Homo sapiens: one gene and its partner. The protein of the gene in region 1 interacts with the protein of each later gene in a biochemical or structural test. Each region holds a gene or a part of one and is shown on either strand. Other genes may lie near its edges. The genes, in order: UBE4B and PYCR2.

Evidence for each region.
Region 2: of the proteins of UBE4B (region 1) and PYCR2, one has a biochemical effect on the other in vitro, tested with the Homo sapiens proteins (one study listed by BioGRID).

The regions. Positions count from the first base shown.
Region 1 is NC_000001.11:10,124,188-10,136,883, reverse strand, and holds part of UBE4B (ubiquitin conjugation factor E4 B), read right to left. Parts: intron 10,091-12,696; coding exon 10,007-10,090; intron 7,493-10,006; coding exon 7,436-7,492; intron 6,385-7,435; coding exon 6,268-6,384; intron 6,170-6,267; coding exon 6,071-6,169; intron 4,516-6,070; coding exon 4,402-4,515; intron 1,897-4,401; coding exon 1,698-1,896; intron 1-1,697. UniProt on the Homo sapiens protein: Ubiquitin-protein ligase that probably functions as an E3 ligase in conjunction with specific E1 and E2 ligases. May also function as an E4 ligase mediating the assembly of polyubiquitin chains on substrates ubiquitinated by another E3 ubiquitin ligase.
Region 2 is NC_000001.11:225,921,251-225,930,946, forward strand, and holds the start of PYCR2 (pyrroline-5-carboxylate reductase 2), read right to left. Parts: upstream 3,001-9,696; 5' UTR 2,861-3,000; coding exon 2,794-2,860; intron 2,522-2,793; coding exon 2,451-2,521; intron 1,134-2,450; coding exon 954-1,133; intron 893-953; exon of another isoform or gene 830-892; coding exon 608-829; intron 395-607; coding exon 302-394; intron 122-301; coding exon 1-121. UniProt on the Homo sapiens protein: Oxidoreductase that catalyzes the last step in proline biosynthesis, which corresponds to the reduction of pyrroline-5-carboxylate to L-proline using NAD(P)H. At physiologic concentrations, has higher specific activity in the presence of NADH.

The DNA of each region.
Region 1 (12,696 bases):
CAATGGCACGATCTTGGCTTACTGCAAATTCCGCCTCCCAGGTTCAAGTGATTCTCCTGCCTCAGCCTCCCTAGTAAGCTGGGATTACAGGCGTGTGCTACCACACCTGGCTACTTTTGCATTTTTAGGAGAGACGAGGTTTCACCATGTTGCTCAGACTGGTCTCGAACTCCTGACCTCAGGCAATCTACCCTCCTTGGCCTCCCAAAGTGCTGGGATTACAGGCGTGAGCCACCATGCCCCGCCAGAAGTTTAAGGATACTTTTGCAATTATAAACTTAAACAATACTACAAGAAGAAGAGAATTCCTGTTAGCTCCATTCAAGGACCACCGTATTCTGTCCTACCTCGTTAAATGTGCATACAGATGTCCATCACAATCTTTTTTTTTTTTTTTTTTTAAGAGGGTCTTACTCTGTCACCTAGTGTCACCTAGGCTGCAGTGCAGTGCAGTGGTAAGATCACAGATCACTGCAGCCTCAATTTCCTGGGCTCAGGCAATCCTCCTGCCTCAGTCTCCTGGGTGGCTGGGAACACAGGCATGTGCCACCATGCTGGGCTAATTTTTTTCTTTGTAGACATGGGGTTTCCTTATTTTGCCCAGGCTGGTCTTGAACTCCTGGGCTCAAGCTCTCCTCCCACCTCAGCTTCCAAAAGTGCTGGGATTATGGATGTGAGCCACCATTCCCAGCCCATCAACAATCTTTGGTGATGTTCCTTACTGATGTATTGTATAAAATCTCCATTTTTCAACACAATACAGAAATATTTAAATCTCGAAATGGTATTAAATTATGTTAATAAACTACTGATTCCAGAGCCGTTTCCCTGCATATTTCTTTTTTCTAATTTTTTTCTATTATAAATAATGTTACTACTGGGAGGATTTATGTAAACAAAATTATTCCTTTTTCCTCCAACTTTGGGAATATAACCTGAAAAGTAGAATTATTGAGAACAACAGTATTATATTTTTTGCTATGAATCACCAGAATTCACTTCAGATAGGTTAAATAAATTGATTAAATATCACCTACTTCTTCAAAAACTTACATTCTATTTTATCACTTTGGTTTTGGCTTTTTTATAGATATATTATGATAACTTGATTTTTTTTTTCAATTTGTATCTGTTTTTTTTTTTTTTTTGAGACAGAGTCTCACTCTGTTGCCCAGGCTGGAGTGCAGTGCCGTGATCATGGCTCACTGCAAGCTCAGCCTCCTGGGTTCACACAATTCTCCTGCCTCAGCCTCCTGAGTAGCTGGGATTACAGGTGCGTGCCACCACACCCGCTAATTTTTGTATTTTTAGTAGAGATGGGGTTTCACCATGGTGATCAGGCTGGTCATGAACTCCGGACCTTTTGATCTGCCCACCTCAGCCTCCCAAAGTGCTGGGATTACAGGCGTGTGCCACCATGCCCAGCTAATTTTTGTATTTTTAGTAGAGACGGGGTTTCACCACGGTGGTCAGGCTGGTCTTGAACTCCTGACCTCGTGATCCACCTGCCTCGGCCTCCCAAAGTGCTGGGATTATAGGTATGAGTCACCACGCCAGGCCTACTGTATTAATTTTTATTATGTTTCTCTATCTCTTAAGTTCATTTTATGGTGAGGTGGTAACAATCTGTGAGGAACTACTAGCACACAGACAAGAGGGCAGTGTTTTAATGACCGAGTCACGAACACAGTACTCACAGAGTTCAGTCAGCCAGTCATTCACATCTTCCATCGTTGCATTCACACGCGTCTCATCATTGGGAAGAGTAATCCGACATCTTGGGTGAAAAATATACGTGGGATCAACTGTTTCTAACTTGATTTTTGTACTTAGCTGCTGCAGTACCCAAAGGAAATTCAGCATAAATCCATCTGTAGACACCAATCTATCATCTGTCTGTGAAAGTTGAAAAGAAAAAGTATTTTTAAACATTAAAAAAAATTTTTTTTGAGATGGGGTCTCACTCTGTTGCCCAGGCTGGAGCGAAGGGGTGTGATCTTGGCTGCAACCTCCACCTCCCAGGCTCAAGCAATCCTCCCACCTTAGCCTCCCAAGTAGCTGGGACCTAAAGTGATCCGCCCACCTCAGCTTCCCAAAGTGCTGGGATTACAGGTGTGAGCCACTGTGACCAGCCAAGAAAAAGTATTTAAAATAACATGAATAGAAATTTTGGCAAACTTTGTAAGAAAGCAGACTGAACTTTCAAACATAACTGTATCCTAAAGTCAATGAGAAGACATATATCTCATCACCACTGTCATTCCATTAATTCTATATTAGCAGGTGCTACTTGTTGAATACCGCCTATTATATAATTATTATTTATATAAGAGGCATTTTATACATTCTTTTCTTTTCTTTTCTTTTTTTTGAGATGGAGTTCCACTCTTGTTGCCCAGGCTAGAATGCAGTGGCACGATCCTCGCTCACTACAACCTCCGCCTCCCGGGTTCAAGTGATTCTCTTGCCTCAGCCTCCCGAGTAGCTGGGATTACAGGCACCCGCCACCACGCCCGGCAAATTTTTTGTATTTTTAGTAGAGATGGGGTTTCACCATATTGGCCAGGCTGGTCTCGAACTCCTGACCTCAGGTGATACGCCCGTCTCGGCCTCCCAAATTGCTGGGATTACAGGCATGAGCCACCACGCTTGGCCATTTTATACATTCTTTTACTGAACCATCACGATAATTCTTACAGGTCAGTAATACTGCTGTTAACATTTTATGCAGGAGGAAATAAAGACTCAGAGACCCTGAAGTGATTTGCCTGAGGCTCAAAATTAGTAAGTAGAAACACAATAAATGTTTCTTTCTTTCTTTCTTTTTTTTTTTTGAGACAGGGTTTTACTCTGTTGCCCAGGCTGTAGTGCAGTGGTGCAAACATAGCTCACTGCAGCCTCAACCTCCCGGGCTTAAGTGATCCTCCCACTTCAGCCTCCTGAATAACTGGGTCTACAGGTCTATGCCACTATACTGGCTAATTTTTTATTTTTTTTGTAGAGACAGGGTCTCCCTATGTTGCCCAGGCTGGTCTCGACCTCCCTGGCTCAAGTGATCCTCTTGCCTCAGCCTCCCAAGTAGCTGAAACTATAGGCATGCACCAGCCACCATGCCCAGATGACTTTTGTATATTTTGTAGAGATGGGGTCTCATTATGTCGCCAGGGCTGGTCTCAAATGCCTGGGCTCAAGTGATCCTCCCACCTCGGCCTCCCAAAGTGCTGAGATTACAGGCGTGAGCCACCATGCCCGGCCTCTTTCTCCTCTTTATTTCCCTCAAGAGCATCAAAACAAGTTGCTCCACTTCTTATCATGTGACATTGTTTCTCTAGGTGACAGCATCAGCATGCTCCTGCATTAGCAATATAACAATGTAACTTGATTACCTCTGTTAAGAAAAAAATAATAATACAACAATGATAAGAATGATAGTTAATATTGGTTGAGTGATCACTGTGTACCAGGCACCACTCTAACAGCTTTATATATAATAAACCCAGTACCAGTAGTACCGCAGCTTAGCAGATGAGGAAATGGAGGCACAGAGGAGTCACTGTCTAAGGTCCCGCAGTTAGTAAACGGTGGAACCACGATCAGAAATCACAAGATCTGTGCTCTTCTCTCTACATGATTTTTGCTTCTGAGTATACACATCACATCATTCATTCATTATTTATTACTAGTCAAGGAAGGATGCCCTTTTCTCCTCTGGCAAAGCAGCTGCAGCCACTGGCCTGTCTCACCCGGACCGAAGCACTCACGCCCTTGCAGCTGCCTTCTTGGGTCTGTTCCTGGCTGCCCCCTTGGGTCTGTTCCTGGCTGCCCCCTTCTGTTTTGGTCCGTCTACATAGCAGCTTTTGTGGTTTCCCTGCTGAAAACCCTCCCATGACAGTTCTGATCACGTAAACCTAACCCGATGGCGCCCTGCCTATCCACTAACTCCAGGACCCGACATTCCCTCCTGTTCACTCTTCTCCAGCCACAAAAGCCTGCGTGCTGGGCTTGTACCAAAGCTGCTTCGTTTCCACATTGGATAGCTCTTTTCTCAGCCACTACAATGGCTGGCTCCTTCCTATGAAACAAATGTCACCTCCTCAGGGAGGCCTTTCCTGCCACCCAATCAAAAATCACCTTCAGATCTTCCTTCTGGTACCTACAGTTCTTCTCATGTCATTTACTTTGCTCTATTTTCTTCACTGATTATACAACTGTCTAAAATCATGTATTTATATGTCTACTTGTTTATTCTGTGGAACATGGGCTCCACAAAAGCAGGAAGCTCGTCTACCTTGTTCAATACTGTACCCCCACTCCTAGAACAGTGCCTGGTAGGTGCTGACTAAATCTGGGTCAGATGAATGAATTTGACAAACAGCGAAAAGCAGTCTGTAGGAATCCTACCTGCATCTGTGCTTTCTTCATATTGGCATTGACGACAGCCGCCATGTAACTGAGAGCAGCCTCACGGGTTTCGCCATTTAACAAAATACTATGCAGAATCTTAAAAAGCTCTTGCTGAAATTTATTTTTAAAAAGAAGAAACAAATTAAAACTATTTTGCACATGATTCCTTTTTGACTTCACGAACAGCTAGCCTACTTCCCACGTTCTCTCCTCTCCCACTTCTACTCATTTTAGAAGAGCCTGAGTGAAAGAATATAAGAAATATCCACATCCAACTATGTCAAAGTAATGAGCATGAAAGCAGAATATGGAGTGGGGGAGGTAGGCAGTTACAGTTTTTTGTTTTTTTTTGAGACAGAGTCTAGCTCTGTTGCCAGGCTGGAGTGCAGTGGTGCAATCTCAGCTCACTGCAACCTGCGCCTCCCAGGTTCAAGCCATTCTCCTGCCTCAGCCTCCCGAGTAGTTGGGATTACAGGCACACGCCGCCACACCCAGCTAGTTTTTGCATTTTTGTTGTTTTTTTTTTTGAGACGGAGTTTTGCTCTTATTGCCCAGGCTAAAGTGCAGTGGCACATCTCGGCTCAGTGCAACCTCCGCCTCCCGGTTTCAAGCGATTCTCCTGCCTCAGCCTCCCAAGTCGCTGGGATTACAGGCACCCGCCACCATGCCCAGCTAATTTTTTTTGTATTTTAGTAGAGATGGGGTTTCACCATGTTGGTCAGGCTGGTCTCAAACTGCTGACCTCGTGATCCACCTGCCTTGGCCAATTTTTGTATTTTTAGCAGTGACGAGGTTTCACCATGTTGGCCAGGATGACTTCCTGACCTCGTGATCAGCCCATCTCAGCCTCCCAAAGTGTTGGGATTACAGGCATTAGCCAACACGCCCAGCCGGCAGTTACAGTTTTAATAAAATAGGCTTTGTTACTTCTTTCCCATGATCAAAATTACCTTAGTTACCCAAGCCTGTAACTTCTTTGCCTGTTTCTTTTTTTTGAGATGGAGTCTTGCTCTGTCGCCCAGGCTGATGTGCAGTGGCGTGATCTTGGCTCACTGCAACCTCCACCTCCTGGGTTCAAGTGATCCTTGTGCCTCAGCCTCCCGAGTAGCTAGGTAGCTGGGATTACAGGCACGCGCTGCCATGCCTGGCTAATTTTTGTATTTTTAGTAGAGACGGGGTTTCGTCATGTTGGCCAGGCTGTTCTCAAACTCCTGACCTCAGGTGATCCACCCCACTCGGCCTCCCAAAGTGTTGGGATTACAGGCATGAGCCATCACACCCGGCCCTTCTCTGCCTTTAAGTTTGAGAATTGAAGACATATTAATCTGCATTTGGGATAAGCAAGTCAGTGAGGGTGTGTGCAAACTAACAATCCTTGCTCACCCTCACAGTGTAAATGCCTAAGGGCCAGCTGGAGGAGGAGCCGGGCCACTAAGCTTAGGACCAGTTCCCAGTGATGCTACATACAAAGGCAGCATACTGCTGTTGTTACAACCTGTTATTCAAGACACAGGCTACTTACTTATAGTTTATCTTTTTTATGTAAGATCGAATTGGCTTTTGTTAGCCGTTTGTCTACTGGGCATAGTCCAGTCTACAAAATAAAAGCTCTGTATCTGGAGCTCATCTTTGATACTTCCTCTGGATTTGTTTTCTGAACACTTACCCTTCCGAGCTCTAAGTAATGCTGCAATGATTGGCTAACCACACGAGTGTTTTCCAGGGTAATGGCAGGCCCTGAGAAGTATTTTTCAACCACTTTAACCTGGAAAGAGAAGGAAAAAATGCAGTCAACATATAATGCACATTTGGGAAAGAATCTGAATAAAAGGGCAGCAAAGTACAAGTAGCCACTATACTTACATCATCTTCTGCAAAGACTGAGAAGCTAAAGAAAGCCCCTAAGTAAGAGAGTCTCTGCAGCTCCCGCCCACAGCCAGGACTTAAGGATTTCGGCAACCACAACCGCAAAGAAGCAACCTAGGCAGAAGATGGAAGAGCCAGTCAAGCCGCTGAACAGGCCGGTGGGGTAAAAATGTAATGAAAACTCTCCAGCTCCTCTGTATTTTCACAAGATATTATTAAAACTTTTATGTTTCAGCCAGGCATGGTGGCTCACGCCTGTAATCCCAGCACTTTGGGAGGCCAGTGTGGGTGGGGGTGGGTCACCTGAGGTCAGGAGTCCGAGACAACCCTGGCCAACATGGAGAAACCCCGTCTCTACTAAAAATACAAAAATTAGCCGGGCGTGGTGGTGTGCGCCTGTAATCCCAGCTACTGGGGAGGCTGAGGCCAAGAGAATCGCTTGAACCCAGGAGGCAGAGGTTGCAGTGAGCTGAGATTGCGCCACTGCGCTCCAGCCTGGGTGACAGAGTGAGACTCTGTCTCAAAAAAAAGAATGTTTAAGTTTCAGGATACTATTGGATGAAGTTCAAATGAACTCTTCTTATACCACCAAAGGACTCGAATAACTTTTCCATACCTCTTGTTAGTTTAGTTGTACAATACTTGTCAAGGGAAAAAAAACAGGCCCGGTGCGGTGGCTCACGCCTGTAACCCAACACTTTGGGAGGCTGAGGCGGGTGGATCACCTGAGGTCAGTAGTTCGAGACCAGCCTGGCCAACATGGTAAAACTCCATCTCTACTAAAAATACAAAAAAATTAGCCTCGCATGGTAATGCATGCCTGTATTCCCAGCTACTTGGGAGGCTGAGGCACGAGACTCACTTGAACCCAGGAGGCGTAGGCTGCAGTGTGCCAAGATCCCACCACTGCACTCCATCCAGCCTGGGTGACAGAGTGAGATTCTTAGAAAAAAAAGGGAAAAAAATCATAGAAATGAACAACTGTAATGCAGGATATAACGTGTCTAACAAAAATGTAACAGTTGAGAGCCTCCCAGACACGTTACCTCCGCCTACACCTAAATGTCCTTCAAGAGACATTTTCCAGGCCATCTCACTAGAGGAATGCCTTCTGGGTTATGATATATTCACTGAAAATGTGCAAGCCCATCAGGTGAGTGCTTACCAAATTGCACACAGGGTGTGTCTTCCCAAACTTGGTTTCACAGAGCTCACCTAGTGCCTAGAAATAAGATCAGAGTCATTTAAATGCATTTCATCTTAAACTGACTGTCATTTGTAGCATAAAGAAACAGTTTTAACTGCTGCTATAAATTCGTTCCCTCTAAAATGGCACACATGCATTCCCTCTGAAATGGCAGCAGCTTCACTACTTTTTCTGATTAATAAACTAAAACACATGCAATGTGAAAACTTGAAATAAAACAGAAATATAAAATGAAACTAAAAATTACTCAAGCTTTACCCTCAAAGATAACCTCTATTGATATTTTGAGCAACAGTTTTCAGATATATTTTTGTGTACTGTATCTATATATGTTTTTTACAAAAAAGTTTTTCCACTTCATATCTTTCCATGTCAAAAAGATTTATTTCATAAACTTTAGATGGCTCCTCTTGCCAGTGTTAAACATGACTATAAATAATTACAATTTAATAAGCTATCAAATTCAAAACATATTTAAAAACATAACTTGGTTTCAAGATTTCTAGTACTTTTAAGAATTCCAACACTTTCCTTCAGACATCCAACCATCCTAACATTAGAGAACGATGAAAAACACTTTTTAGGGACATAAACATAATTTAGCATGCCCATGGTAACTCAATCAAACATTATTTTCAACAGTTAATTTCCTCTGTGATTCGGACGCAGCTCTAGAAGTTGCTACATGAGCCGAAGAGTGCATTTAGGCATTGACACAACGTTGAGATGCCTTTGAGGTTCAGGCAGCCTCAACTCAGAAGGAAGCGTTCTCACTGCCTAGTGCAGGAGTTCACAAACGTGGCTGCATATTAGGATCACATGGGAAGCCTTTGGAAACCCCAATGCCATGCCACACCCCTGGTGAATTAAATCACAAGGTCTGGGGTGGGGAGCCAGGCAGAAACACCTTTAAAGATCCCCAGCTGATTCCAAGGTGATTCCAACGTATGGCACAGCAGGATCCACTGACCTAGAGAATGATCACAATGATTTCTGATTTTAGCTTCAACAGTCTTCCGCTTCCTGCCTCTCATTATTGTACCCTCTCACTCACTGTGTCCTCGTTATTATGCAAGCATCAATAATGGCACAAAATGAAATCACTGTCTACCACAATGGAGGCCTCTGTCTTTTGAACAAAAGGACATTTTGGTGATATCAGATGCTAAAAGCTCCTCACTGAAACATCAAGCTAATTCACACCACAACCCAAAAGCCAACAGTCCCATGAAGGAACATCTACATAATATGGTGATAATTAGTGTTCACTAAAATATTTCATCACTGAACTCAAACAATCAGATTATTCCACTTCCTTTTATCTGCCACAGGGAGAACAATACATAAGGATTCAAATAATTTTACCAGGAGCCCCAATAACATGTACAATGGAAAGAGCTCTGGCATAAATCCACTTAAAATTATTTTTTAAAGTAGGAATTCTGGTTTCACCTTCTAATTTCCCAGCATTCTTGTAGCCTTTTAGTGCCATGACAGGTTTGAATTTTTTAAATAGATAAATACACCCTTTGTGTACAGCTCTGTTTTAACATTTATCACAGTATCTGTTCAACTGTTGCGCTGTAGCTCTTATTTTTGCAGTAGATTATGAGTGCCTTGAGGAGAGGGACCTTGTCTTCCTAGCTTCTGTATCACCAGTGTCTAGCACAGAACAGATCGTCAGTAATGAATTCATGGTATAATGGAATCCAATCAGTGGAATAAGTAAAAGAAATAAATACAGTAAGAAAAACAACCATGGTCTCAATTTACATAAGACTTAATTTATACATAGAATAAACTAATTTCATTTTGATATTTTTTCCTTTACACTTCTGCAACGAAAATATTCAGTAACACTTCAAAATACTTTTCTCCCAAAATTTCAAATAAGCGAATTCAGAACAGAAAGGAGCTTCTAATTTTCATTCTAGTTTCAGCATTTTCACAACATTCAAGCCTCCCCATGGGAATCTAGCTGAAGCTTCTGTCCACAATGTATGCCTGCTCTAAGTGCGTTAAAGAGCTAAGCAGATTTCTACTTCCCAAGTAAATATGACCTTAGGAAACAGGGAGGGTGAACAAGAGAGCTACACTGAGATTTTCTGCACAAAGTAAACACATAAAGATAAAATTGTATTCATTTTCTTAGTATGTACAGCTTTGCCTTTTTTATTTGCATTTTTAATAGGTTTTTTTTTTTTAAGTAACAAAATTTCATCCCAACTATGGTATGCTCATTGCTAGGAGATAAGTTATCTTTTTCATAAGCTATACAAAGTACATTGTAATAAGTGCATTTAACTCCTGTCTAGGACTTGGATAGGTGGAAGATGTACCAGGCTGCTAACTGTCTTCACTGATGCATCTCACTGCACACCAAACACTCTGCATGGCCAACACAGTGATTTCATGTTTTAAATTTGAAAACAAGGTTGATCTCATGGACCTGAAAGAAAAGTATATGTCAAAATAATCTGAAAGAAAAACATCTATTGAATGAGTTAAAGAAAAAGAACAAAGTTTTACCATGAGGGGGTATTTAAAGTAGTCACTGTCGAGGGAGCACTCTTTGGCAGCAAGAGCCAGGCCTTGTAAAATGGGGATAAATATCTATAAGAAAAAAAACAAAATCAGAAATATAAGTTTAAGAGAATCTAAGAGTGGGAAGTATGTCAAATAAGGTGCTAGAACTGAATGTCCAAATTTCATTCCTTCCCCAGGGAAAAGCTTTTTTGCATATAAAAGTCTAGAATTCAGCCAGAGTGTTGACCTGTTCTTTGACAAGTCTAACCATAAAGTAATACAGCTGAATTCTCCAGAAGTAAGAGGAGTTTGGTGAACTCTAATACTCTGACAGGACCCCCAGTAATTCAACAAAACCCAGTAATTCAACAAAACCCATACATTTGGAGCCTGTTGAAGAACTCTCCAGGAGTCGTTGCTCTACTCAATTAAATTCTGCACATCTCAGCAACTAATATGTTCTTGATTACCAAGCATCTATAACCTGTTAAAAAATTCAATTAAATGTTCCAATATTTCCTCCTTTCTATCTATCTATCTATCTATCTATCTATCTATCTATCTATCTATCTATCTATATTGAGACGGAGTCTCGCTCTGTCACCCAGACTGGAGTGCAATGGCACAGTCTTGGCTCACTGCAACCTGTGCCTCTGGGGTTCAAGTGATTCTCCTGCCTCAGCCTCCCGAGCCAGCTGGGATTACAGGCATGTGCCACCACACCTGGCTAATTTTTGTATTTTTAGTAGAGACGGGGTTTCACTTTGTTGGCCACGCTGGTTTCGAACTCCTGACCTCGTGATCCACCCGCCTCAGCCTCCCAAAGTGCTGGGATCACAGGCATGAGCTACCGCGCTTGGCCCTCTATCAATATTTTTTAAAAGCTTTTCCCCATTTATTTTGAGGAAAACAAGATAAACAGGCCAACAATCAACATTATTACTACATTAAACTTAAATTAGAGCAAAGAGCTAGTTGGTAAATGTTGAAATTTACAAAGAAAGCTTTAGTTAGAAAGCCTTACCTCCACATATAGTGTAATTAATACATTAACCTGCTATTGGCACTTAAAGGAACTCAAATCTGCTTTTATACATTTATGATTAATACCAGGTAACACCATGTAAGATTTACTCAGCCTAGCTCATCTTCAAATTTCACAATGCAAGCACTGATCAACACATTTAGGGAGTTGGTTGGGATTCAAGGCTAATAACATTAAATAGAAATGTTGTAAACAACAGCTGACAATCTGAATGCCAACAAGTTGTAATAGGAGTATACTATGTAGCCACTAGAAAACTTGAAAAATTCCCTTTCCTACTAATTTCATTCCATGAGCACCTTAATAATTTAAAGAGCACAGTATAAAACACAGGTGCCCTGGATGACAAAGTGTCCGTGGAGTGTTGTGAGATATCAATACAGCTCTGGAAGAGATCATTCTATGGTTTCTGCAATACCAACAATCAAGGTAGATGTAACTTGCTCTCATATGCCAGATAAAAATGGAGAAGTAACACTCAGGTGTGGAGCTGGGGAATGCCAACATTGTAATGAGGAAGAAAAGACAAACAGAGGTTCCAGAATCACCAAAAATTAGTTCATAACTGGTTGTCCTGAAAAATCTCCAAATTTTTTTAGGGAGGCTACAAGTAAAATATAATTACACTTTCTTGTATAGTTATCCTTTTGTGCATTGCACAGGTAAAATATTACTAAGCATAATCTTTTTCTTTTTCTTTTTCTTTTTTCCAGACACAATTTCACTCTGTCGCACAGGCTGGAGTGCAGTGGCGCGATCTCAGCTAAATGCAGCCTCCATCACTCGGGTTCAAGAGATTCTCCTGCCTCAGCCTCCCAAGTAGCTGGGACTACAGGCATGCACTTCTGCGCCAGCTAATTTTTTGTATTTTGAGTAGAGATGGGGTTTTGCCATGTTGCCCAGCCTGGTCTCGAACTCCTGAGCTCAGGCGATCCACCTGCCTCGGCCTCCCAAAGTGCTAGGATTACAGGCGTGAGCCACCATGCCTGGCCTGACCTATATATTTTAAATAATTCTTCAATTTTCAAATGAATACCTCCTAGCACTGATTAAAAATACTGTAAGTATCCACCTCCAGTCCTAAATTCTAGCTGCTATTTATTTATCTGTGAACATTTCTCAAACATTAAAAGGAGGTAGATATTTCAGTCAAAGATTTAATAATTCACATTTGCCACTCTTTCAAGACAAAAAGGTAAAATGCTGCTTTGCAGTCCAACAGCTCCATCCCAGTTATCATTCCTCTCTAGATAAAACACATGGTAGCACATAAGAAAAGACAAAGAGTATTCAACACTGAGTGGCTGAAAAGTCAGCAGAATTCTGGGATTAAAAACAAACAGGTCTGGGCCAGGCGCTGTGGTTCACACTTGTAATCCCAGCATTTTGGGAGGCCGAGGTGGGCGGACCACTTGAGGCCAAGAGTTCAAGACCAGCCTTGAGGCCAAGAGTTCAAGACCAGCCTGGCCAACATGACAAAACTTCATCTCTACTAAAAATACAAAAATTAGCTGGGCATGGTGGTACGCTCCTATAATCCCAGCTACTTGGGAGGCTGAGGCAGGAGAATCGCTCGAACCCAGAAGGTGGAAGTTGCAGTGAGCTGAGACGGCGCCACTGCACTCCAGCCTGGGTAACAGAGAGAGAC
Region 2 (9,696 bases), about 220 Mb from region 1:
AGCGGAAGCCCCCACTCTCTAGAAAGTGCAGGGCGTGGATGGTGGCTCCCCCAGGGGAGCAGACATTGTCCTTAAGCTGGCATGGATGCTGCTCCGAGTCCAGCAGCATCTTGGCAGCTCCCTATGGGGAAGGGCACATTAGGAGAAAGTTGCTGGTGTGCGTTGGAACAGGCTTCCCATACCCACTGCTCCTGCCCAACTGCTACCCCAGCTTCCCAACCAACTCCCACCTCAGTTCAGTGATGCACAAGAACCCCCATTCTACACCCTGGTCCTGAACATGCGGGGGAAAGATACTGACCAGCAAAGCCTGGGCCCCGAGTTGGATTGCCAGGCGCCGTGGCAAACCCATCTTCACCCCACCATCAGCCAATGCGTCCAGAGCCATGAATGCCTGTGGAGACACTCACTAAGCCCCAGGCCATAGGCACTGAAGGGCCTTTCCTTAGGTCTGCTTTCTGATGACTAGAACTAGCTCCAAGGGTCAGCATCCTGTACCAGCCAGCTGTGCCCAAGAGGTGGGCGCCACCCCCAGTCCAAGCCTGCCTGCCAGCCCATCTTGCTGCCTGGGTTCCTAGAAGGCTGAGCGAGCAAATGAGGGCCTCACATAGGCAGGCCCGCTGCCACTGAGCCCCGTGACGGCATCGATGAGGTCCTCTTCCACCTCAGTGCAGAAGCCCACGCTGCTCATGAGCTGCTCCAGGAGCTGCCCATCCTCCACCAGGGCATGGGTGCCCGTGGCGTACACTGTAGCGCCTTCCTGCACTACCACAGGTGTGTTGGTCATGCAGCGAATCACTTTGGGGGCTGGCTGGAATGCCATCAGCTTCTAGGGTGAGGGAGAGAGCCGAATGAGTGGCCAGGGCACGGCTCCCACCAGCACCCACCCATTAGCTGCCATTCGTGGGTCAACCCTCCCCTCACACAAGGGGCATCAGGGCTGAGATGGGCACCTTCTCCACAGAGCTGATGGTGACACCAGCCGCACAGGAGACCACGATGTGTCTGGCTTGCACGTCGGCCCCAATCTCATCCAGGATGAAGGGGATGATATGTGGCTTCACAGCCAGAAACAGGACGTCGCTGTGCTTCACCGTCTCCTTGTTGCTGCGTGTCAGGTTCACACCCATCTTCTGCAAGAGGAGACTCCCAGCTCACAGTGCTGGAGCAGCCTGGCTATGCCAAGGCCTCCCAGGGAGCAGCTGAACCCCTGCCAAACCGATTCTGCCAGATGCAGCCTGGAATTCTTAGCTTTATGCCCTCAGGGTTCTACCCCTACCCCAAATAATACAGTTTCCCATTGTTGCTACTGGACAAGTAAGCACAGGCTTGGAGCATGACAAGCTTCTCCATGGTAACCAGGAAGTGGCTGCCCTTCTTCCCTGCCAATCTTCTGGTATCTAAGGCACTCCTCTGCCAGGTAAGAAGGCCCTATGGTGAAAGTGGCAGGGCAAAGGGAAATGCTAATACCTGGTCGTTAAAAGCACAGCTGAGTCAGGCCCTATCCTAACCCTGGCCGCTTGTTCGTGGGGACCGCACAGTCTCCATGTGGTCCAGGGCTAGGCTGGAAGCCATCCATCCCTCTATGACTCCAAACTGAGAAGCAGGACCCTCCAGTGCTAGGGACATCAGCCCACCCTAGGCACAGACACTGCCTGTCACCTGCCTCATCAGCCATCCTCTCCCACAGAGCACAGGTTTTGGGTGAAGACTTGGAATATGTTTTTGGAGAACAGAACAACTAACTCACCAGATTCTTCCCAATATGCTCATTCACGACTCAGAATAACAGCAAAGTGGCCACTGTTGTAAATGAGGAAATAGCCTCAAAGTGGCTGAGTACTTTAAGGTCATACAACTCGTCTATTAAGAAAAATGGCTGAGCGCAGTGGCTCACCCCTGTAATCCCAGCACTTTGGGAGGCCAAGGCGGGCAGATCACTTGAGGCCAGGAGTTCGAGACCAGCCTGGCCAACAGTATTCTCTACCAAAAATACAAAAATTAGCTGCGCGTGGTGGATGCCTGTAATTCCAGCTACTCGGGAGGCTGAGGTGGGAGGCTGAGGTGGGAGGCGGAGGTTACAGTGAGCTGAGATCGCGCCACTGCACTCCAGCTTGGGCGACAGAGTAAGACCCTGTCTGAAAAAAAATTTAAAAAATGAGTATTTATTAGGTACCTACTATGTGCCAGGTGCTTTCATCACATAATCACCTCAGTTAATCCTCTACCACTCCAGTGTCTGGATCTGACCCCCAGTTATGTCTCCCTGGGTGTTCCCACCACATTGAGCTGCCCAAGAGAAGGTGGAAAGATTGTCACGTTCCTGGAGTAAAGGTCACCGCCGGCCAAAGACCAGCACTTGGGCGCAGGGGCCGGCCAGACTCACTTCATCTCAGGTCATCCTTTTCCTGGGCCTCCACCCGCTTCCCACTCCGCCCGGCTCCACCTACCCTGAGCGCGGACACCGTGGGCAGGTTCATTTCTGGGGAGCTGGCTATTATCTTGTGAGCCGACAGGATGCCTGCAGAAGACAGAGCTTTTCAACTAGGGGTCGCGGCCCAGCCCGTTACCACGCTTTCCCTGGCTCTAAAACCCAGAGCCGTCCTAACAGTGCCAGTCTCCCTCTCCCCCTCAACCCTCTACGAGGACAGAAGACGCACTTGCTGCTCAACCAGAGTCTCATCTACCCCACCGGACGCAAACTCCCCTTTCATTCGCTCATGCTGGTGGGACGGAGGCCCCCTCGGGCCTCGGGACCGCCCGCGAAGCCGCCTCCCGCCTCCACGCGCTTGCCTGCGGCCGTGAAGCCCCGCGCCAGAGCATAGGCCAGCTGGCCGGCCCCGATGAAGCCCACGCTCATGGTCCGCGGTTCACGCCTCCTGGGAGCCGCACGAACCCCCTCAGCGAGGGACCGGAAGTAACGCTAGGGGAAGGGCGGACAGCGCAGGGGCGAACGGGCGGCGTGCCGAGGACCGGCGAGCTAACAGCAGCTTCTGGGATGGTGCAACCCTATTCTCCCCCGGCGGATATCTCCCGGGCGGCTGATGGCGCCTTAGGCCACGTGGCCCCGCCCCGTCCGGGCGACCAATCAGTGGCCAGGATCTCGGGGCAGGCCAATCCGCGGCCCGAGCCAGGCCGCGTGCCCGCCTCCTCCGCTCGCGACTGGAGGGCGGAACTCCGGGCTGGAGTCCCGGAAGCCCCTGTGGCAGCTTGGCGTGAGCTCCAGGCGCCCGCCGGCCCAGGACGCCCGGCCGCCCCCACCCCCCCCCCCCACCCCAAGGCTGAGGTCGCCGTCCCTAAGCCACCTCGGGCTCAGGGCTGAGGCCTGGCCCAGGCCTGGCTAATATTATTTCTGGCGCTGGCCATCAGATGCCCCTCAAGGCCCACAGGAATTCTCCAGGTTGCCGATTTGCGGGGATGAACGAGGCCCTCCTGGCGTAGGTTCAGACCAGGTGGCGGCGAGGTTCAGACCAGGTGGCGGCGAGGCGGCACCAGGGTGGTCAGCCGCGGCTTATTCACTTGAACTTGAGTGTTTCTCGCGAATTTGTCCAAACTAGATACAAGAAGGACAAGTTCGAGTCTCCGACTCTTCCGCGATCCCGCACCCCCCAGCCCCTTGCTGTCACTTGCCTTTTTTTTTTTGAGACGGAGTTTCACTCTTGTTGCCCAGGATGGAGTGCAGTGGCACGATCTCGGCTCACTGCAATCTCCGCCTCCCGGGTTCAAGCGATTCTCCTGCCTCAGCCTCCCCAGTAGCTGGGATTACAGGCGCCCGCTACCACGACCGGATAATTTTTGTATTTTTAGTAGAGACGGGGTTTCACCATGTTGTTCAGGCTGGTCTTCAACTCCTGACATCAGGTTATCCGCCCGCCTCGGCCTCCCAAAGTGCTGGGATTATAAGCGTGAGCCACCGCGCCCGACCTGTCTCTTGCTTTTAAAAGCTCCACCAATGTGATGTTTCCTTTTCTATCAGTAGTAAATATAAGGGGCCGCAGGGAACAAATGACAGAAGTAGAGAGGAAGAAGGTGGCGTTCCTAGAGGACTCAGAAGAGCTGAGGACCCTTAGTTCCCATGGTCTCTCTGCTAGCTTTTCTAGTCCTTTCCGTGTAATGCACACCCCCACTCCCAGGCAAGGGGCTGCTTTCTGTGAACTTCCCTGAGCAAGTCCCCAGGCCCTCAGTTTGTGCACCCTTTAAAGTGAGGACCAAATATAATATTTACTATTAAGCAAAATAATGCTATGTTTTATTTATTTATTTATTTATTTATTTATTGAGACAGAGTTTCGCTCTTGTTGCCCAGGCTGGAGTGCAATGGCACGATCTCGGCTCACTGCAACCTCCACCTCCCGGGTTCAAGCGATTCTCCTGCTTCAGCCTCCTGAGTAGCTGGGATTACAGGCATGCGCCACCACGCCCGGCTAATTTTTTGTATTTTTAGTAGAGACAGGGTTTCTCCATGTTGGTCAGGCTGATCTTGAACTCCCGACCTGAGGTGATCTGCCTGTCTCAGCCTCCCAAAGTGCTGGGATTACAGGCGTGAGCCACAGCACCTGGCCTCTGTATTTTTTAAATTCGAAAAGTAATACAGACATATTGAAGAAAGTTTGGAGATAAAAGTAAAAATAAAATCATCCACATCATACTTCCCAAAGATAGTTTCTTACAAACATTTTTGGTGTATTTCCTTACACTATCATGTCCTATGCATATCTACTTTCTCCATCATTGGAAATAAATGATGTACATGTAGTTTTGAAATTTCTCTAGTAGACATGAGCATTTTCCAATGTCACTGAAAAGTTATTTAAGACAGTTTTAATGACTACTTATTATATGTATGTACCTTACTGATTTAACCATTCAAAGGTCAATGTTAGGTTTATTGATTTATATAATAGATAACTTACTGAGCCAGGTTCTGGGAGTATAGCTATGAACAAAACAGACAAGTTCCTGTCCTCATAAAACATCAATTTATTATTATTTCTTATTTTTATTTATTTATTTATTTTTGAGACGGAGTCTTTGTTACCCAGGCTGGAGTGAAGTGGCATGATCTCGGCTCACTGCAACCTCCATCTCCCGGGTTCAAGCGATTCTCCTGTCTCAGCCTTCCGAGTACCTGGGATTACAGGCATGTGTCACCACGCCTGGCCAATTTTTGTATTTTTAGTAGAGATGGGGTTTCACCATGTTGGCCAGGCTGGTCTCCAACTCCTGACCTCAGGTGATCCACCCGCCTCAGCCTCCCAAAGTGCTGGGATCACAGACATGAGCCACCACTCCTGGCCTTCAATTTTTTAAATTTTTGTTCATATTATTGTGATAAAATCTTTGCCTGACTCATTATTTTCTTAACATGACTCCCAGAAGTGAGATTTGTAAGGTCCAGTGGTTTGGGGCTTTAAGAGCTCCCATAGCTGCCATGTTGCAGCATAGCCTAATGGTTACCAGCGTAAAGCTCTGAAACCAGAAACCCAGCAGAAACCAAACTGGCTGAAGGAAAAGGGGGGCTTCTGTACAGCGCTTGGGAGAGGCACAGGGGAGCTCACAGACCAGAAGGGGCACCTACAGAGAGCAGGACCTCAGGAATGGAACTAGAACACTGCGCTGCCAGCACTTCCCCTCTTCTCTTTGTCTCATTTCTGTTTGCCTGCATTTGGCCTCCCTTTTGTTGTAGAGGAGTCTTTGTCAGGTAGTGAGGAAGTTGGGGGTTTACCCTCCTTCACAACTTCCTAATGCTGCCTGCTCCTCTGCAGGATACTCACCCTCCCCATAGTCCACCAGGGCACTGCAGGGCCCTTTGCTTTTCCTGGCTGTGGTCTGTTGTGGGGAGCTCTGGATCTGACCTGCAATACAGGAGGTTGTGCTGAAGCTGAATGTGTGTTTTGGAGTGAGGTGTGGGGGACACTTGTGTCTCACTCCTTTCTGACCCCTTACATACACCCATCCCTTACCTGGTTGCCTTGCGTTGATATCTCCCGTTTCCGCTTCCGGGAGCCAGGGTGAAATGGGAGAACTGCAAAAGCCTAAGAAAGGATGGCCGGGTGCGGTGGCTCACACCTGTAATCCCAGAACTTTGGGAGGCTGAGGCGAATGGACCACCTGAGGTCAGGAGTTCGAGACCAGCCTGGCCAACATGGTGAAACCCCATCTCTACTAAAAATACAAAAAATTAGCCGGATGTGGTGGCGGGCACCTATAATCTCAGCTACTCAGGAGGCTGAGACAGGGGAATTGCTTGAACCTGGGAGGTGGAGATTGCAGTGAGCCAAGATTGTGCCACTGCACTCCAGGCTGAGTGACAGTGTGAGACTCTGTCTAAAAAAAAAAAAAAAAAAAAAAAAGAGGCCATGTTGGTGACCCCCAGTGTTGGCTTCATCCCCAGCCAGGACTGGCCACATAAGACACGGAGTAGCAAAAGCACTTGCTCCCCTCAGTTTGGACTTAGGGCAGCAAGTGAGCCACTGACCACAAACTGTTCTTTTTTGTGGTAGTTTTGATCTATTATTTTTTCATCTCCAAAGTTTAAAGTTTATATATACAAAATCTATTATATTTTATTTTTTAAAAATATAAGATGGAAATAAAAAAGAGCAAAAGAGAAAAGAAAACAACAAAAAATAAAAACAAAGTAAGAAAACAAAAAAAACCCAAATATATGTATATATAAAATATATATATAAAATAGAGACGGGGTCTCACTATGTTAGTCTAGGTTGATCTTGAACTCTTGACCTCAAGCAATCCTCCCTCCTTGGCCTCCCAGTGTTAGGATTACAGGCATGAGCCACCGCACCCAGCCTGTTACCTATTTTAAATATAGGTAAGACCATTTTATTCTCTTTTAATGACCTTGCTGACTCTAACGTCCCATTTCCTTGGTGCTGTGGCCACTGCCTTGGTTTCTAAGGCAGTCACATCTGATGCCTGTGGAGTTCCTCTGAACTGAAGTTGAGGAGAGGAGAGGGGAAGCCCTTCGTTCCCATCCAGCCACCCTAAAGGACACCCCAGCCTTGCACTGCCATCCTGCCATGGGACATGCTCAGTCCCTGCTGGCACTTGTCTCCTTGGGCACCCACTATCCTTTTGCTGTCTCGGAGCAGACACGTCCACAAAGCTGCCAGGACTGCCCACCTTCACCCCTCTACTCCCATCCTCTCATCCACCAGTCAGGTTCTGCTGTTTGTACCCTTCCTCCCTCTTCACTCCCCTCTGTCCTGCCTGATGGCCCTCTCCAGCTGTCTCAGACAAAATGGATACTGCTTCACTTCTGTCTACTTCTGCTTCTTCACTATCAGGGCCTCAGGGCCTCCCTCTAAACAGCAGGCCAGTCTCTCCTATCTCTAAACAGCAGGCCAGTCTCTCCTAAGAACTGAGATGACCTAGGAAATGAGAGAGAAGCCTGTGCTGCTCCCAGATAAACAGATGGCAAGTGCCTTGGCCCTCAATCCTCCCTGTCCTAGGAGCCTCTCCAAAGAGGCGCATTTTTGAGTGCATTTTTGCATTCTTTTTGTTATTGCATAAATAATCCATGTTTATTTTAGAAAAATTAGAAATGAGATCAAATGGAAGGCTGGGTGCAGTGGCTCATTCCTGTAATCCCAGCACTTTGGGAGAACAAGGCAGGCGATCATTTGAAAACAGGAGTTCCAAACCAGCCTAGCCAACGTGGCAAAACCCTGTCTACTAAAAATACAAAAATTAGCCGGGCATCATGGCCTGCGCTTGTACTCCCAGCTACTCTGGTGGCGGATGCACAAGAATCGCTTGAACCCAGGAAGCGGTGGTTACAGTGAGCTGAGATCGTGCCACTGCACTTCAGCCTGGGCGACAGAGTGACACTCTGCCTCGAAAAAACAAAAAAGAAAGAGAACAAATGGAAAAACATTGTTTTCAATTCCACCACACAAAGATTTAGAACAAATGTGACCCTTTTGGAGAATAACTCTCTTCACTTCTTTTTCCCATGCAATAAGCACATTAAAACTTGATTTTGGCCGGGCGCAGTGGCTCATGCCTGTAATTCCAACACTTTGGAAGGCTGAGACAGGAGGATCACTTGAGCTCAGGAGTTTGAGACCATCCTGGGCAACATGGCAAAACCCTGTCTCTACCAAAAAATAAAAAAATAAAAATAAATAAATAATAAAAATAAAAAATTAGCCGAGTGTGGTGGTTCGTGCCTGTAGGCCCAACTACTCAGGAAGCTGAGGTGGCAGGATCACTTGAGCCTGGGAGGTGGAGGTTACAGTGAGCTAAGATCCTGCTACTGCACTCCAGCCTGAGCAAAAGGGTGAGACCCTGTCTCAAAAAAAAAAAGAAAAAGAAAAGAAAGAAAAAAAAGCAAACTATCGCAAGAACAAAAAACCAAACACCGCATGTTCTCACTCATAGGTGGCAATTGAACAATGAGAACACTTGGACACAGGAAGGGGAACATCACACACCAGGGCTTGTTGTGGGGTAGGGGGAGGGGGGAGGGATAGCATTAGGAGATATACCTAATGTAAATGATGACTTAATGGGTGCAGCACACCAACATGGCACATGTATACATATGTAACAAACCTGTACGTTGTGCACAAGTACCCTAGAACTTAAAGTATAATTAAAAAAAAAAGAAAGATAAGAAAAACTTTTTTTTTTTTTTGAGACGGAGTCTAGCTTTGTCACCCAGGCTGGAGTACAGTGGTGCAATCTCAGCACACTGCAACCTCTGCCTCCCAGGTTCAAGTAATTCTCCTGCCCCAGCCTCCTGAGGAGCTGGGACTACAGGTGTGCACCACCACACCCAGCTAATTTTTGTATTTTTAGTAGAGACGGGGTTTCACCGTGTTGGCCAAGCTGGTCTCGAACCCCTGACCTCAGGTGATCCACCCACCTTGGCCTCCCAAAGTGCTGGGATTACAAGCGTGAGCCACCATACCTGGCCAAAACCTTGATTTTTTTTTTTTTTTTTTTTTTGAGACAGAGTCTCGCTCTGTCGCCCCAGGCTGGAGTGCAGTGGCGGGATCTCAGCTCACTGCAAGCTCCGCCTCCCGGGTTCACACCATCCTCCTGCCTCAGCCTCCCGAGTAGCTGGGACTACAGGTGCCCACCACCACGCCTGGCTAATTTTTTTTGTTGTTTTGTTTTTTTTTTTTTTTAGTAGAGACAGAGTTTCACCATGTTAGCCAGGATGGTCTCCATCTCCTGACCTCGTGATCCACCCACCTCGGCCTCCCAAAGTGCTGGGATTACAGGCGTGAGCCATCGTGCCCAGCCAAAACCTTGGTTTTTAAAATAAGTATTTACTCATGCTGCATGGAAACAGGTGATATGCAAAAACCAAAATAATTTTGTTTTAGGATGGTGGGATTATGGGTGGTTTGCAATACATTAAAAATTATCTTTAATGTTATTTATTTATTTATTTATTTATTTATTTTTTGAGACAAGTTCTTGCTGTGTCACCCAGGCTAAAGTGTAGTGGCATCATCACAGCTCACTGCAGCCTCAACTTCCCAGGCTCAAACACTCCTCCCACTTCTGCCTGCCAAGTAGCTGGAACTACAACCACTACTCCTGGCTAATTTTTTGTATTTTTTAAAGTATAGATGATGGGGATGGTCTCACTATGTTGTACAGTTTGGTTTTGAACTCGCAGGCTCAAGCAATCTGCCTGCCTTGGCCTCCCAAAGCGCTGGC